Linked DNA regions of Homo sapiens: region 2 is linked to region 1. Evidence: fine-mapped expression QTL. A gene starts in region 1. The other region holds a variant in brackets. All regions are shown on one strand. Distances are from middle to middle. Region 1 holds the start of TLCD4 (TLC domain containing 4). Region 2 overlaps CNN3-DT (CNN3 divergent transcript).

The links. PIP is the estimated chance that this variant, and not a neighbour inherited with it, causes the effect. A credible set is the group of variants that fine-mapping cannot tell apart.
Region 2: its variant is the best candidate, but not a certain one, in a credible set for the expression of TLCD4 in left ventricle (GTEx, PIP 0.77).

Annotation. Positions count from the first base shown.
Region 1 is chr1:95,116,170-95,119,077 of GRCh38, forward strand. TLCD4 (TLC domain containing 4) reads left to right here and starts at 1,186. Exons shown (of 7, transcript NM_152487.3): 1 at 1,186-1,448. It overlaps TLCD4-RWDD3 (TLCD4-RWDD3 readthrough), which reads left to right and starts at 1,754. Exons shown (of 8, transcript NM_001199691.1): 1 at 1,754-1,922. RefSeq lists silencers at 1,193-1,339, 1,267-1,546, 1,627-1,676.
Region 2 is chr1:94,945,515-94,948,422 of GRCh38, forward strand. All of the region lies in intron 2 of CNN3-DT (CNN3 divergent transcript), which reads left to right. Among named protein-coding and RNA genes, the nearest start is that of CNN3, 20 kb to the left of the region's middle. The variant A/G (reference allele first, on the strand shown) is at 1,344.

The sequences.
Region 1 (2,908 bases):
TTGTCTTTTCCACATCAGTCCAGGTCTTCAGAGTCACTATGAATTATTATTACCATTTTAAAGATGAAGAAATTGAGCCTCAGTGAGGTTCAGTTAGCTAAAGGCACACAACTCTAATAAACTGACAGAATTCCAGGTTCTGATTTAAATTCTATTGCCCTCTCTTGAAAATAAACATGGACAGCTTATATGAGCTTTTGTGTATATATTTTCTGGTCTAAATCTGCGGCAGATATGTGTGTCTTTCTGCGCATGTATATAGTAGATCAAATATGTTAGCTCTATTGACATTTCTTAGAAATAAATATCCTGTTATCAATGATAGTGTTTACAAATTATTTATTTAGAACTTACCTCTTTTCAAGAAAAGGCCTTGTGATTGCTCTCTGCGAATTATAATGCATGAGTATACCTCTTTGTTATTTTGTTTTGTTTCAGACAATTATCTCTGGTTGATGCAGATCACTTGGAGGCTTTTGGGGCTGTATATAACAGGTCAGAACATCTATTTAATGTCAAACTTTATCTACTAGGCAACTTGGAATTCTCAGCCAGCACCAAATATTCAAATCCAACTTCCACACCCCGACAACAGAGGGGTTCCGGGTGTAGGTGTAGTGCTGGTGCACCCATGAGGGTGTTTTTCAGGAATTCTGGAGGTGGTGCTGGAGAGAACACGCTTCTTCTACACGCGCCCCCTACCAGTTTGGTATGCACCTGCAGCCCCAAAGAAGAACTGGCGGGACTCGAGTGTGGCCGTGTCAGACGTGGCAAGAAAAACCAGCAGTTGCCTTTTCATCTCTTTTCTGATGATCTAACCATGAAGTCCCCAGTATTTGAGCATTTAAGGCAGAATGTAAATTCATAATTTAAGAAGATTTTTTGTTACGTGGCTAGCCCAGGTACTGACCGCTGCGGGGGCGGGCTCACACAGTTCCCCCGCTGGCAAGTTTTGTGACTTGCTTTGGAAAACCCGGGAATTGCACCCTCTGCCCTTGGCAAGGTGTGAGCTTCCAGGATCTCTCCGCTGCGACTTCGGGTGTTAGGGTTTTTGGGCTCTTTCCGGGACCCAAGTTCCAGGGCAAGAAGGTCTGCTCGGCGGCCCGCCTCGGGGCCCCGCCCACTTTGGCCAGGGTCGGAGCCGCCCGGAGCGGGAGCCGGAGCCCGAGCGGCCGCGGCCCCTTTAAGGAGCAGCTCTGCGGTAACCCGAGCCCGCAGTCCGGGCGGGCGCGACGGCCGCCGCGGTAGCTGGAGCCTCCGCGACTGCACCTCCAAGCGGCCCGGAACCCGCGGCTTCCCTGGCTCCCGTGAGCATCTCACCGGGCGGCACTGGCCAGCGCCAGCCCTCGGGCCGGCCCGGATGAGCAGACTCCTGTAGACACCCGCCGCCCTCTCCCGGCTCGGCGCAGCCGCCGCCCGCGCGCGACTCGCCCCGGGACCCGGCACAGGTGACGCCGTTTGGAGGGGGGGTTGGGGAGGAAGGCGGGCTTGCCTCGCCCCGCGGCTCCCCCGCGCCAGCCGCCAAGCGCAGCCCGCGGAGAGGGGTGCCGCGGCTTCCCGCCCCTGGCCTAGCGCGGCCGAGAGCTCCTGCGCCTGGAGGCTGGGTGGGCGTCCGGCGCGCGGGAGGCGGCCCGGGGCTCCCGGGCGGGCTCCGGCAGGTGTGTGCGGAAGGCTCAGCATCGTCCCCGCCCGGCGGGCCACGGCGTCGCTCCGGGAGCAAATGGTGTCCCGGGGCCCGCGGCCCCCGCGCCGCCCGGGCGCCCCGCATTCCTCTCGCGTTTCTCGGGCTGCACGATTCCGGCTGCCCTGTCTGCCTGGCGGTGCCTCTCGGGTCTGAGCTTAAAGCGGGTGGGTGCAAACCTTTGGGCATCCAGGGAGAGCTTTCTTGTTAGAGCCCACACACAATCGGGCGCATCAAGTGGGTAAGTCCCCCTCCCCCGCCGCCACCTTCTGAAACAAGTAGCTCTTATTTACCCTTGCAGTTCTCAAGTGGGTCCCATTTTTAGCCACTGAGTGCTGAAAAGTCTAGTGGGAAGGGACCAGGCGTAGAGTCGGAGGGAGAAATTGGTTTCTATTTCCATCTTTACCTCTGTAACCCCTAAGTGCCTCGGTTTACCCAGCCATGAAATGGGATTCGTAATGCCAGCAGTTTCCTACCCCTCCAAGACGGCAGAAAAACCTCTGTGAAAACACTTTGAGTCTAAATTCATTTAAGAGTCGCTGTTGCTGGTCTGTATATTTTTAATTGTACACACATTTGAGTGTTAATGTGGTGCACACTTTTATATGAAATTATGAAATTTACTTTAAAGACTGATCTTGGATAATGTTTAATCCAAATACCAGTTTGGAGAAGATGGAAGAGTTTGTGTGGACCCTAGGAATTGATGTGTGAAATAGGAAAAAAGATTTAATAAAATCTTTACGCAGTCATAAATGGAGTTGAGAAAAATTGACCTTGGATTGTGGTGTTTTAAGTGAGTTACTCCCGTGCCAGCGCATGGTGTCGATTGAAATGTAGCTTCATCTTTGTGTAGCCGATTAAGGTAATAAGTTAGAGAATCCCAGCTCCCTTTTAATTGTGCTATATATGAGGAATTTTTATCCTTGCTTATCTTTTCCTTAAATTGGGCGAAACGAAATTAGAAAAGTGTATTCCCGCCGTGTTAGAAAATATGAAAGAATGGGTGAAGAACCATGGATTTTAGTTTATTTGCCACGCCCCTCCTGTGCCATCTGATAACCCAGAGAATATTTTGAGGGTGCTTCTTTTTTTTTCTACGCCTGCAACTCCTTTTGTCCCATTACCTCCCTCTGGAGTTTGAATCTTTACTGTCCTCATCCTTGAGATGAATTTTATCTGTTTAGGCTGGATGCCTCTGACCCAGCTGCCCAATCAGTCATTATT
Region 2 (2,908 bases), 170 kb before region 1:
GTGTCCTCCAGAAATTCATATGTTGAAATCTAATCCCCAGTATGGTGGTATTTGGAGGTGGGACCTTATTAGGTCATGAGTATGGAGCCCTCATTAATGAATGGGATTAGTGCCCTTATAAGAAGAGATCAGAGAGCTAGCTTGCTCTCTCTACTCCATGTGAGGATACAAAAATAAGTCATCAGTCTGCGAGCCAGAAAGAGGGTCCTCACCAGAACCCAACCATCCTAAGCTTGAACTTTCAGCCTCTAGAACTGTGAGAAATAAATTTCTGTTGCTTATAAGCACCCAGTCTATGTTATTTTGTTAAAACAGGAAGGTGACGAAGACACCTTCCTTTTTTCTCAAACTCTCTCCTAGCTACTAAACAGATCTCATATAAACACACTAATTATGTCTGTTTTGCGGATCTAGCAGGAAAACACAGCTCCGAATACTAAAGAGCCTTTCTTCTTTATTTGTGACTGTCATCTTCTCTGACAGACCAAGCAGCTTTGGAAGATCTGTGTGGGAAAACAAGGTCACCACCTAGCCAGCCAGTCTATCTTCACACTCACAGGAGACTTTATTAATTGACAGAGAGATGTCAGTTTCTCTTCCAATTTCTGAAATTTCCTTTTCACTCACTATTCCATTTAATGCATAGGCTTGGCTTTTACACATTATACATAATTTCCTTCTAAAATAATTACACAAATACCTCTAAGAATGGTGGGTCTCAATATAGAAGCATGGTCAATAAAGTAGATGACCCTCCGCTGAAAATGACCCCCCGCTGAAAATGACCCCCCAACTTTACCCCCACCCACAGTAGCCCCCGTAGCTAGGCTTGTATTCTTTTACCCTCCCCTCTAAGTTTAGCTGATTAGAAGTCTGAAGATGCCCCAATCGATCCTCTTACCTGGGTATTTGAAGTTGAATTTCTTGTTTGGTCACTTAAACTGAGGTCTTATAAATTTAGAGCAATCTTATACGTAGAAAAACAGAGAAAGCAGGTTTAAAAGTTAGGTTGCAGGTTCTGGCTTCCTCAATAAAATCCCAATATAATACTAGCTCAAATGAGATCTATGTTTCCCTCTTATATAAGAGTCTGAGGCTAAGCAGTTGGGTCAGGGCTAATAATCACATTAGCTCCATGGAGTTGGGGACCCAGGCTCCTTTCACCTTGTTGCTCTGCCATTCTCCACCTGTAATTCTATTGCTAGGTTAAAGACAATTACTTCAACTCCTGCCATCTTATTCACACCCAGGCAGCAAGGAGGGAAAAAGAGGAAAGGAGGCGCCCATTCCTTTCTATTTAAGAGTGTAACCTGGAAGTTGTACATATCATTTCTGCCCATATC[A/G]CATTGGCTAAAGCCTAGTAAATGCCTACAATTAACAGCAAGGGAAGCTTGGAAGTGCATCTGTCAGCTGAGTGGCCAAGTGTTCAGCTAAAACTCTCTTTTCAGAGAAAAAGGGGAACAGTGACATCATAGGTACAACAAGCAGCCTCTGCTCATCTCCACAGATAAAACTGATCTCCAGGAAGTGAGCACGAAGTTGAGGCTCAGAATAAAAGCAGCTGTGAGAGACTTGGGGCCTCCAAGAGACAAGGAGAGCAACACTGGTTCCTGTTAGCATCCAGTTCTTGGGTTTTATCCCTCATTGAGACGCAGAAGCTTTCCTTCCCTTGTGTATAATAAATTCCTGGCTTTGCATAAGCCAGCCCAAGTGGCCTTCTGTTCCCTGATACCAAAACGTCTTGTCTAATACAAACTCATTATATGCTCCTGGAGGGCAAGGGTCACATTTTACTTTTTTATTCCCGACCCAGGGTTTAGGTAGTACCAATGCTCAGTAAATAAATACTGATTTGACTTAATGTATTGCCTCCTTCTGCAGCTGGATGCATTTGCTATCTGTCTCCATCATTTTTTGCCAGTTATAGAATGTAGGCCTCCAAATTCCCTCAAAAAAACAGAGAAGGTGGAGTCATGAGGAGATCAAGAAATGTCTTAATTTGAGAACTGAAGAGGAAAATACTAACAGTTTTGGCACAGCTCTTCCCTGAAATCTGTCAGCACTAAGGGAAGGGCCAGCAGCAATAATACAGCAGCAGTCTTCATGGCACTGTCAGGCAAATCAGGAGGGCTACAAGGGCCTGCTTCTCTCCCCTGTGTGGACAAATGCTTGTGGCTGTGAGTTAAATACCAACGCAATCAGCTCACTCTCAAATGAAACTGCTCTGGCCCAGACTTGGAGAACAGTCTTGCATGAAACTTTTTTTTCCAGTGTTTTAAATTTAACCAGCTGGAAAGAAGTATCATTTTATTAAATCTTTTTGGCCGGGCATGGTGGCTCACGCCTGTAATCCCAGCACTTTGGGAGGCCAAGGCAGGCAGATCACCTGAACTCAGGAGTTCAAGACCAGGCTGGCCAACATGGCAAAACCCCGTCTCTACCAAAAATACAAAAATTAGCCAGGCGTGGTGGTGTGCACCTGTAATCCCAGCTACTCAGGAGACTGAGGCAGGGAGAATTGCTTGAAACCAGGAGTCAGGGGTTGCAGTGAGCTAAGATTGCGCCACTGTGCCTGGGTGACAGAGCAAGACTCTGTCTCAAAAAAAAAAAAATCTTTATAAAATGAAAGATTTGCTTTTTTTTTTTTTTTCTAGACGGAGGCTCGCTCTGTTGCCCATGCTGGAGTGCAGTGGCACGATCTCGGCTCACTGCAAGCTCTGCCTCTCAGGTTCATGCCATTCTCCTGCCTCAGCCTCCCAAGTAGCTGGGACTACAGGTGCCCGCCACCACACCCGACTTATTTTTTGTATTTTTAGTAGAGACGGGGTTTTACCATGTTAGCCAGGATGGTCTCGATCTTCTGACCTCATGATCCGCCCACCTCGGCCTCCCAAAGTGCAGGGATTAC